3 linked regions of the Homo sapiens genome follow. The protein of the gene in region 3 purifies or fractionates together with the protein of the main gene of each other region. This does not show direct contact. Each region holds a gene or a part of one and is shown on either strand. Other genes may lie near its edges.

Region 1 (3,648 bases), on a different chromosome or scaffold from region 3:
GAGGGTGGGGGCGGCCCTGAAGGGAATGGTGGGGGGCAGGCCAGGCAGAGGCTCACATCCAGCTCCTTGAGCACCGGGTGGGCCTCGATGCCCGGGAAGAGCACGCGCACGGCGTAAGTCCGGTAGTCCAGGAAGGGGATCTGCACCTCGTCCATGTGGTTAGTCAGCTCATTGATGTCCGTCTGCAGCTCTGCAAAAGCTGGGGGGTGGAGAGAGGGAATGAGTGGGCAGGAGGGAGGTCCCCAGCTTCCACACCACATCCCGCCCCGCCTCAGGCACCTTCCTTGCACTCCAGGGCCACACGGGACTCCAGGTTGTCCATCTGCAGCTGCAGACGCTTGAGGGTACGGTCCGCGTCCTGAGTCTTGCGCTTGTAGGCCACCAGCACGGCTGTGATGGCCAGCAGCAGGAGCCCACCCCCCGCCGCCAGCCCCATCATGGCCGGTAGGGTCAGCGCCCGCTCTGCCGAGATGTGCAGGGTGCCCAGCCAGAACTCCAGGCCACCCACCAGCACCTGTGGGGACAGGCCTGAGGTGAGCTGACCACCACGCCCACCCTGGGCTGCCCAGGGGGTCTCCCCATCCCCACCTACCATGACAGGCTGCCGGCCAGTCTGGCTGGGTGAGTCGCACAGGAGTTGTGTGTCCGAGACAGTGAGCGAACACGGCTGGCCTCCTATCAGCACAGTGTAGTTGAGGCGGGAGCTGCCGGCTGCAGCGGGAATCAGGTTCTTGCCCTGGGGGTGGAGGACAACTTCAGCCCAGGACTCTCCACTTTCCCGCCCCTCCCCGCCCCCACCCCGCCCGCACCTTCAGCACCACGTGGGAGCCCGGTTTGACGTCCAGCACGCCAGAGGGCCCCAGCGGCTCAAAGCTGGGATCAGGGTAGTAGGTAAAGGAGGAGCGGTTGAGGGAGCGGGCCGTTTGCACGTGGTCCAGCAGGAAGCCAAACTCATCAGGGTGCTCGCCTTGCGCCCGAGGCTGGGGCCGCCCAAGAAAGATGCCGGGGGCCTTACACAGCATGGCAGTGTCGTTGATCACTTGGCATGTCTGTGGGGACAAAGGTGGACAGCCAGGCACGTGAAGCCATGGGCTGCAGGGTCGGGGTGGGGCGGGGCAGCTGGTACTCACATTGGTGGTCTCAATGCCGCGGTACTTGGCACGGACCCGGGGCTCCTGGACCGTCAGCAGGTGGGTCCCACTCACAGTGATGGCAGTGCTTCCACTAGGGACAGGGCAGGGGCCTCAGGCTCCCTCCTCCAGTGCACCCACCCAGCCCTGGAGAGCGATCAAGGCTGCCATGGCAGCCCAGGCCTTCCCTGACCCTGGATCGCCTAGTGGGTGCCGGGTACTGTGCAGCCAGGACAGCTCCACCCCCTCCACCAATGAGGGCCTAGGCTCCAGGAGGGGCCCCACCGGAGCTCAGAGACCACCCAGTCCCTGAGCCCTCTGGACACTGCCAGGCTCCCCAGTCCCCCAGGGTCTTACTTGATGATGCTCCAGGTGGGCTCAAGGCGGGTGACGGTGGGGTCCTGAGTGTAGGTGTAGATGAGCCCGGGGCTGGAGATGTTAGCCCGGTCAATGGCAAGTGTGATGGGGGCCTGGCTGGGGCCCAGGGTGGAGAGAGGTGAGATGCACACGATCGCCTTGGCATCTCTCCTACATTGGCAAGCAGGGTGCTTGGAGCGGGTGGCCCAGGGCCCTCAGCCACCCGTCCCCACGGCCCCCCACACGATGCCCAACCCAAAGCTGGCAGGGCCCCGGCCCACCTTACAAACTGGCACTCGCTGTCCCTCACAGTCACTGTGACCCTGCTGCCAGCATCCAGAGAGCTGCCTGAGATGGTAAGCCGTGTGCCCCCGGACGCCGGGCCACGGCTGGGACTCACTTGGTCAAACGTTGGGGTCTGCGGGAGAAGCTGCCCTGAGGGGAGGAGCCGGGCCGGGCTGCTCCACACGCCCCTTGCGGGAGAGAGAAGGGACAGGAAGGGGTAGGGCCGGCAGCCACGCACCACAAAGCTGTAGACCTGCTCCGACTGCGTGCGGAAGTCGGCTGAACAGTCACCCACACACAGCTCCACGGGCCCCGGCGGCGGGCTGGGCACCAGCGACTCCTCCATCTCACACACGATCCTAGGGCTCAGAGAGCGTCAGGGCCGGCCAGGCCACATACGGCCCGGGCACCCACAGAGCCGCACTCACCTCTCAGCACTGATGTACTCGGCCGGAATGGAGTTGCAACGCACGCCAGCCACCCGCAGGCCCACCTCTCGGGACAAGAGGCCCAGGTTCTCACCCACGATGGTGACCCGGGTGCCTCCTTCCTTGGGCCCCACGAGAGGGTGGATCTGTGGAGCAGGATGGGCAGTGAGAGAGTTGGCTCAGACTCCCAGGGGCCCTGTTGGCAGTGGGCAGGGGCGGTGAGGGAGGCTGACCTGCGTGATGCGGGGGTGGCTGCACCGGGTGCCCTTCTGGCTCAGGTGCATCCAGTTGGTCTTCGGGGCCGGGCAGTGGGTCCGCAGCTGGCACCTGTGCTCTGAGATGCACCAGCCACAGTTGAAGCGGGGATCAGCCTTGAGGCAGAGGCCACAGCTGGGCCGCTGCGCCCAGCACTTGTACAGGAGGGCTGCAGGCACAGAAGGCACTGCTGACGGAGCAGGCAGTGGCAGAAAAGTGGAAAGTGGGGAGCACTAGGGCCCCCAGACCCGACCCCAGCAGTGCCAATTGCCTTAGGAGGGAAGCTCCCTGGCCCATGCCTTCACCTCGGAAGCTGGGAGGCTTGTCTATGGGGAAGTCTCCATCCCAGACCACGGAAAAGTCCAGCTCGGTGTCACCATGCTCATCACCTTCATAGGAGTACTGGAGGAAAGGAACCCATGGGACCCCAGATAAGATGTGCAGAACCCCTACCCAAGATTTTTGCCAGCTGCCCCCCTCCTCCAGGTACAGGAATCCCTAGCAGGAGACTCAGACAGTTCCCTGCCAGAGAGCTGGGCATAGACAAGAACGATCCACACCACGCCACAGCCCAGACCCCGAAGGGAGGCAGCGGGTGGGACCTCACCGAGGCGTTCTGGCACTGCACACTGCTGCTGTTGAAGCGCACGGCAGGCACCCGCTGCTGCCGCCCCTGCACCCGCACCACGCACTCATAGTTCTTCTGGCCCGACTGCGGCTGAGGTAGGTTCTTAGCCCGCAAGGTAAGAGGCTGCATGACCCCAACGGGGATCAGGAGGTCCCCACTGGGCAGGATCTCAGGGCAGCCCTGCGGGGAAAGCACCTGTCAGCTGCACACAGGGCCACCCTTCTCCAGGCCCAACCTGGAGAAGGCTCAAAGAAACCGAGAACGCATAGAAGCCGGTGGCCCCGCCCGCACCACAGAGCCCAGCCCCTCACATGCGGCGCCCGCCTCACCTCAGGGCTGTGGACCCTGCCCTCCTGGAAGGAGCACTCGTGGGGGCGGCTGGTACACGTGTGGCGGTACTTACACCAGTGGCAGGGGTAAGGGCTGCCAACACAGGACATGCACCTGGGGGGGAAGTGGCTTCAGAAATAACAGAGGAGGCTGCACTGCCCCTCACTGCTCCCCAATAGGACACATCGGGAACTGAAGGAAGAAGGCAGCCATATCAGGGGACAGAGAGATGTGG
Region 2 (3,648 bases), on a different chromosome or scaffold from region 3:
TTACAGACATCTGGAAAACCTAATCTATGCCCAGTGTAAGATACCAGGGCAATTAACAATTAAGCTGCTATATGTGAATCATGTGTTCTACGCAGCTACTTTCTGGGCCTTCCTGTGTTACTGTCACAACAATGCCCTGTAAATAATACAGGCATTTGAGAAACTCATTAACTTTTAGAATGAAAAGGTACAGTTTATTATCTCAAATAAATCTACTAGAAAAATCTCAGTGGGAACATGTGTTCATAAGCATATAAAACCACACCAGAATAAGGAATACCTGAAAGAGTACTGCACATCATTCTTCAAAATACTCCCTGCTCAAAAACTATAAATAACATTCTGAAATGAAAACAGCCCTTCACAATGATAATCTAATAGACTTCCAATAATAATAATATACTTATCTATGTCCACATACTATATATAACACATGCACACATGCCATGTCTGTGCATGCAACCAAACTAACTGGCACAAAGCAAACTTTGTAAACAAAAAACGCATTTCAAAAGAACCACTACAAATAGCCCAGAGGAAAAAGAACTCCACAAAGAAAGTCAAGCCAGTGTCAAATGAGAAATTATGGCAAATTAAAGGATATTTTGAGTAATACCTTATGTCGAGCACCAAAAACCACTAAAAAGATGTTTTTCATGTAAAACAAAATAGTGACACTAGTAAGGACATCTGTGTGCAGAGGAATCCATGACAGAAAAAAATGCTTGGATGGTAGAAAAAAAATTATCACATGCTATGCATCTTTTTGAAAGGTAGAGTATTGAAAATAAAACATAAAATATTTTCCTACACTTATACTGTGTCATTCAAGTTGCTGCAACTCAAGACAAATATACAGCAGGAACTGGAAGGAAAGAAAAGGCAATCAGGACAGGACATTCCTTTTTTTTTTTTTTTTTTTTTTTTTAGACAGGGTCTCACTCTGACACCTAGGCTGGAGTGTAGTGGTGTGATCTCAGCTCACTGCGGCCTCGACCTCCTGAACTCAAGTGATCCTCCCACCTCAGCCTCCTGAGTAGCTGGGACTATAGACATGCATCACCATACCCAGCTAATTTTTATTTTTTGTAGAGACAAGGTTTCACTATGTTGTCCAGGCTGGTCTCGAACTCCTGGACTCAAGTGATCCTCCTGCCTTGGCCTCCCAAAGTGCTGGGATTACAGGCATGGGACACCGCGTCCAGCTCCTTTTCATCATATACTTCTTCTTCAATCAAGTGACTGAAGAAGAGAGACATCACCCAGATGAAAACCAAAGGGAGCTGGCAGAAGGGGAGTGTTCTAGCTCGGAAAAGATGATGACCTAGAGAGAACAAGGATGATTTGTGTAACATTTTAAATGACTCAGTTAAGGTAAAGACACACCTTGATTACCAAATCTTTTAGAAGCTACTTCTAAAATCTGATTTTAGCTACCTTTAGGAAGGTGACTCTGCCAGAGAAGATCTGAGGATTCAAAATGAGCTTGGATAAATTCAAGAATGGCTAAGATAAGCTGAGATTAATCCCTATCCTTTACAGTTGACGTCAGAGAGAACAAGTGTGCCCTCATGGCCTCCAGTGGCTGTATATATTTGAAATGCTGTGGGTGTACAGGCCATTTCTGTTTCCATGTTATATGAAATATATCGATATATTATTTATTAATTATAACTCTAATGGCCATATTAGAAAAGCCTACAGGTCGTATATTTCTAATCACCTTATTGCCTCACGACAAAATTCAGCCATGTGATTGTCCTCATCTATACGAGAAAATCTGGATTTACTCTTCATCAAGGCCCTGATAGAATTTTTAATATGTAGTACCAGAACTAGAAATCAACAATTTAGCAAAATTGTTTTGAGTGGCTATTTCCAGAGGTAGGATTAAAAGTAACTTGAATAAAGTCCTGCAACAAGCCCTACACTTCCTAGTAAATGGGATCTGATGTTGAGGTTAAATTGAGAGATTCAATCTGAGGTTAGAAAACTCACTACAACAATAGGTATGTGTATGGCTTCTGCTAATGTGGGATACCTAATAAAAAACAAGGATGGTGAACAGAATACCAAGGGATTTACTGTTGGCTCAATCAATAAAAAGAATTTAAGTTTCACATAGAGAACAGAGTTTCTTAAAGTGCCATTGATTCCATCATTGAAATGAAATTGCAATAGAGCATGCTTTCCTTAAAACCATTACATTTACTTACTAGCTTAAATTAACCAACTCCCTACTTTGATGGAAGTTACCACCTCACTTTCATTATTGGACATAAACTAGTGGTAATAACCTCCCAGAGAAGAACCTCTGTTCACTGACCTGAAGCTAAACATATATACCTGTTAATTGTGCTATTTGGGGCAGAACAGAGGGGATTCTGTGTGTAATTAAAGATAAAATCACTTATACTCATTAAAATTAACCATTTAACTATATTCTCCTCACATACTATAACTATTACTTAATCAGAAAACTACTTCCCAGGCAGTCTATTGACCATATGGCATAGTGGTCTTTTCAGTATTACAGAAATGCTCATTCAAAGCAGGAATGTTTCCCAGGGAAGTGGTGGACCCACATAAAGGGACTTTGGAGGCCCCATGTCCTAATCACCTTTTAGTGTACTGTATATATACAATATATATAAATAACAAATCATATCTCTTCCAAAAATCAAAATTGACTTTTACATTAAAAAAGAATTACCAAGGAATTCGGCAAACCTTACTTCTGGTAGTGGGCTGGCTGGTTTGGTTAGGATTCCTCCTACATAAACAACATTAGGCAGAGTGGGTCTTGGGAATTCCAGTGCTACGTCAGTACACAGCATCCACAGGCTGGACCCATGAACCAAATCATACATGGACTTCTCTGGCAGCAGGTTGTACTTCTGCATTATCCTTTCATATTTGGGAAGAACCAGAAAGCTGACCCCTAATCTGGAAATGAGGTAAACACCGGTATTTTTCATCCTTTGCAGCAAGTTCATGCGGTCTGTGAGGAGTGAGTTAAACTCTGGGACGTATGCTAATGGAGCAGGAGCACCCACTTCAGCAGGATACCAAAGGCCAGTTGAAAATACAGCATATTTAACCCCTAAAAGATGAGCTATCACAAATCCACACATATCATTAGGGTCCACCAGCAGCAGGTCAAATTTTTCTTTCTTCAGACCCTGGATCAGGGCATGGTTGCCAACCATCAGGTCACAGTTCTTAGTATAGTGATCCAGTATGTCAAACAGTTCGATTGCTGTCAATCTCCCAGAGAAAATATTCCGCATCTTGGACTGTAGGAAAGCATCTGAGGTGGTACTGTTAAAGATCCCTGGGTAGCGCTGGAGGCTGTAATGATTAGATGGGGCGATGTCTCTGCCTTCAGAGAGGAGGAACACTGTATGGTGGCCTCTCTCGTGCAAGGCTGAGGCTAGCGTCTTGAAAATGTACATATGGCTTTCAAACATAATTGGCGGCACGATGATGATTTTGGCAGCCTTCGCTATCCCAACAGCACTCCACAGGAGAATGAAATATGGAGTGTAAGACTTCATAGCTGTAATAACAACCAGAAAACAACTTAAAACAAAATACAATGCTCACCATTCAAAACAAGCAATCACAAAGCATTTTTCCCCAAAAATA
Region 3 (3,748 bases):
GTGGCTACACATGCAACTTGGCTGGGACAGGGTCTTCATGCAGCAGTTACAAATCCTTTCCAGACTGAGGACCCTGGCACTGGGTGTGGCACTTGCCTTCTAAAGCAGGTACTCAGTGTGTGAAGTCTGAGTTAATCTGCTTCTCTCTTCCATGGTGCCTAGTAAGGTGTTAGCACTCCTCATGCTCCACCATGGGCATCATGCAAGAGCCATGTGGGGCCAAGAGAAATGAATGAGGGACACCAAAAGAATAGCTAGAGATTGGAAACTCTTGTGTATGCTCAAGGGAAAGCAGCTTGAGGTAGGACCCTGACATTCTCCTCTCCTTTCCCAAGCTACCTGCTCCCAGCGATGACACCTAGATGACCAGGCTCTGTGTCTAGGTCCCCACATTGCTGGAAACCTGTTGCTTTTGAACCTGTTGTGCTAATGAGATAGGAACAGGGCAGACTGAAGAGGAAATGTGGGTCTGATGTCATCTGAGAGGGAAACTAAAGGTATGGAAGGTAAGAGACTAGGGGTGGCCTGGGTACCCTACCCTGGTTACCTATAGCCAATGCATGACATACTCCTGTGAGCAGTGGGCATCTTCCTGAGTGTCACCCTTGGACAGAGAAACCTTAGAATCTTTCTTGGCCTGGAAGAGTCACATACAGCCCTCACATTGCTGTTGGGCCTACTGGGGTTGGCAACTGTAAACAGAAGAAAGAAAGGAGTATAAAAGCCAACATCATCAGATCCAGTGAACTGATGGGAAAGACCCCAACTATGACACTCAACAGAGTTACCTCCTGACCACCATCCATCCCAGACCTCTCTGTCCCCTCAAAACAGTTTCCTTGGGCCCACTTCATCCCATCAGTTCCTAGGTTGCAGAGGAGCAGGCACCCTGGCTCATCCACAGGCAGCCTCAGGCCTCAGACAAAGAGCCACAGTGTTTTGGAGAAGCTGACCCAACTGCCCACTGCCTGGGCAAGCTGGCTGGTTCCTGGCTCTGGCCAGGAGAGAAGACGAATGGAGCGGCCCACTGCCAACAGAGCATTTTTCCATGCACAGCCCTGGGCTGTTGCAGGACCAAGGTGGCTGTCTGGAGGGCTGGCACAGTGAGCCTCTGTCTCCGTTTCTCCTTCTTTCAGACTGGGCACCTTGGCAGACAAGAGCCACCTTCCCCTTCAGACTCAGCTTTCTAGGGGCTGTGCACCCTGCCCACTTCAGCCTCTTCTTAGAGCCATGGGTGCTGAAAGGGTTTGATGGGGAGCTTATGCCTCTCCTTACCCCATCCCATCTCTTAGCAATGTTGCTTCAGGGTTGCATAGTCTTACACTGTTTCCCATAATGCTAGAGGCCCTCCTGTGCTCAGAGTTTCTGTAAGGTCGAAAGTTTCCAGGACTGCCACACTATCAGCTGGGGGAAGTTTACTCAGGAGCTACTGCTGTTCTTTCATTTCTCCACTCTAGAGAAAGATCTCTCCCTCCTATCAGTGGAGAAGGTCAAGCCAGAGGCCATCCCCTCACCTGGATTGCATCCCCACCCCAATCCACAGCTCCCTGGACATGGCCAGTTCTCAATGCTTCTTTTTATTCTCTCCTTTCCACTCCAAACACACACACACACACACACACACACACATTCTACACAAAAGTTTCCCCCTCTCCCATAATAGCATTTATGTACCAAACCCCTCTATAAGAGAGATTGCAGGGACATCCAGGTCTTGGAATACCCTTCAAAATGCCCACACTCCCAGCATGATGGGATTTATGAGTAGCAGGGAAGAAGCTTCCCTAGACAGAGGGTCCTTCACTTTTTCATGCCTGAGAATTGGAGGTCCCCTCAGCACCCATAAAGGAACTGTAAGAGAAAGGTACAGGGCTGGAACCCCTCCCTTATACACCCTCTCTGCCACTCTCCAGCATCCCTGGGGTCATGGCCCAGATGTGGAGAAGGAGGAATGAACCCTCCCTGCCTCCCCATCTCCCCTATCCCCTACCACTTTTCCTTTATTTCTTTTAAGGAACTGCTAGGGACAAACCCGAAGTAAAACGACTATACTTACCTCAAGTTGAACTTTTCAGAGAGTGACCACGTCCCTCTGTCTGGCCTCCTTGGGTTGGAGAACGTGTGAGAGAGGAAGAGAGAGAGGAGTGAAAGAGTCTACTGAGAGTGTGCGTGCCTGTGCCAGACCAGGGTCCCGCCCCAAATTCCTAATCAAATATTGTGAAAAGGGGCTGAGGAACCCGGATCCTGGTTTTTTTCAGCTCTGCTGCAGGGGCGGAGTTCACGCTCAACCACGCAAATCCTTCGGTCCGCCTGACGCTATAAAAACCACCTTTTTTCCACTCACTTATCTTCCCTGAAACATTGGCAGCCCTGGGTCCCTTTCTGCTGAATGAGTTAGTGGCGCCCTAGAAGTTATTTGTACAGTCTCTTATGAAGCGCCTGGATTTCTCATTAAAGCCACAAAGGCAGATGCAGGGATGGGGAGGGCCAGGGTTTGGTAAGAGACATCTTAACTCCTTCAGCAACCCACATGTCCCTCCAGAGAGCGAGAACTCGCGCTTCTCAGCTCCCCCTATAGACAGGTCATCAGGCTAGTGGATAAGGGAGCATGAATGACAAGGGACAGCCGGCTCTGGTTCCAGTTCTATCCCTAAGCAGTGTAGACTTTTCTAGGCTACAGGTCCTGCCCACCTCCACCACTGGAACAAAAGGAAAGGCAGGGACTCCAGCATTTGCTGATCACTGCTTATGCACTAGCATCATCCACTTCCACTTAATGCTCACAACAAATTCAGAGTTAATAACACTTACCTTGCTGGGTTGTAGCAAGGACTGTATCAGGTGATGTGTGGGAGGCTCCTGACCTGGCACATAGCTGAGGTTCACTGTGTCCTACCCATTTCACAGCCATAGAATTCCTCAGCCAGGGAAAGACAAGATCAGAAAGCTGGGCAGGAGCTGTACCATGAAAGGACTTTTGGGCGATGGAAGTGATTTGGTTTTTATTCTAAATGTTTTTGTTGTTGTTGTTGTTGTTTGTTTGTTTGAGAAGGAGTCTCAGCTGGGCGTGGTGGCTCATGCCTGTAATCCCAGCACTTTGGGAGGCCGAGGCAGGAGGATCATGAGGTCAGGAGATCGAAAAGGAGTCTCGCTGTGTCGCCCAGGCTGGAGTGCAGTGGCACAATCTCTGCTTTCTGCAACCTCCGCCTCCCAGGTTCAAGCCGTTCTCCTGCCTCAGCCTCCTGGGTAGCTGGGACTACAGGCACACGCCACCACGCCCAGCTAATTTTTTGTATTTTTAGTAGAGACAGGGTTTCATCATATTGGTCAGGCTGGTCTTGAACTCCTAAACACAGGTGATCCACCCACCTCAGTGCCCCAAAGTGCTGGGATTACAGGCGTGCGTCATCCGGTCCGGCCTATTCTAAATGTTTAAAAAAAAAAACATGTTTCAAGCAGGAGAAGCCATGGGATCTGATTTGCATGGGATCTAATTTACATTTTAAAAGCATGTAGGAGGGGCTGCTGTATGGAGAAGGGGAGGCCAGGGTGGAAGCAGGGAGGCTCCAACCCAGCCTCAAGGAGAGGTAATGGCAGATTGGACTGGTGCAATGGAAGAGAAGATCTTATATTTTAGACAGAGAACTGACAAGTCTTGCAGAGTTAGGAAAAGTCAAGGATGATTCCTAGAATTTTAGTTTGAGCAACTGGGTAGGTGGTGGTAACATTTCTTGACATGGGAAAGGTG

What was found.
Region 1: the proteins of FMOD (region 3) and PLXNA3 purify together in Homo sapiens (affinity purification with mass spectrometry; one large-scale study listed by BioGRID and IntAct). This does not show direct contact.
Region 2: the proteins of FMOD (region 3) and UGT8 purify together in Homo sapiens (affinity purification with mass spectrometry; one large-scale study listed by BioGRID and IntAct). This does not show direct contact.

What each region holds. Positions count from the first base shown.
Region 1 is NC_000023.11:154,464,633-154,468,280, reverse strand, and holds part of PLXNA3 (plexin-A3 precursor), read right to left. Parts: intron 3,528-3,648; coding exon 3,413-3,527; intron 3,264-3,412; coding exon 3,063-3,263; intron 2,858-3,062; coding exon 2,761-2,857; intron 2,625-2,760; coding exon 2,434-2,624; intron 2,347-2,433; coding exon 2,201-2,346; intron 2,132-2,200; coding exon 2,011-2,131; intron 1,906-2,010; coding exon 1,769-1,905; intron 1,659-1,768; coding exon 1,488-1,658; intron 1,225-1,487; coding exon 1,131-1,224; intron 1,050-1,130; coding exon 810-1,049; intron 737-809; coding exon 593-736; intron 515-592; coding exon 280-514; intron 200-279; coding exon 57-199; intron 1-56. UniProt on the Homo sapiens protein: Coreceptor for SEMA3A and SEMA3F. Necessary for signaling by class 3 semaphorins and subsequent remodeling of the cytoskeleton. Plays a role in axon guidance in the developing nervous system.
Region 2 is NC_000004.12:114,622,790-114,626,437, reverse strand, and holds part of UGT8 (2-hydroxyacylsphingosine 1-beta-galactosyltransferase precursor), read right to left. Parts: exon of another isoform or gene 3,560-3,648; 5' UTR 3,558-3,559; coding exon 2,736-3,557; intron 1-2,735. UniProt on the Homo sapiens protein: Catalyzes the transfer of galactose to ceramide, a key enzymatic step in the biosynthesis of galactocerebrosides, which are abundant sphingolipids of the myelin membrane of the central nervous system and peripheral nervous system.
Region 3 is NC_000001.11:203,348,977-203,352,724, forward strand, and holds the start of FMOD (fibromodulin precursor), read right to left. Parts: upstream 2,147-3,748; 5' UTR 2,057-2,146; intron 281-2,056; exon of another isoform or gene 270-280; intron 1-269. UniProt on the Homo sapiens protein: Affects the rate of fibrils formation. May have a primary role in collagen fibrillogenesis.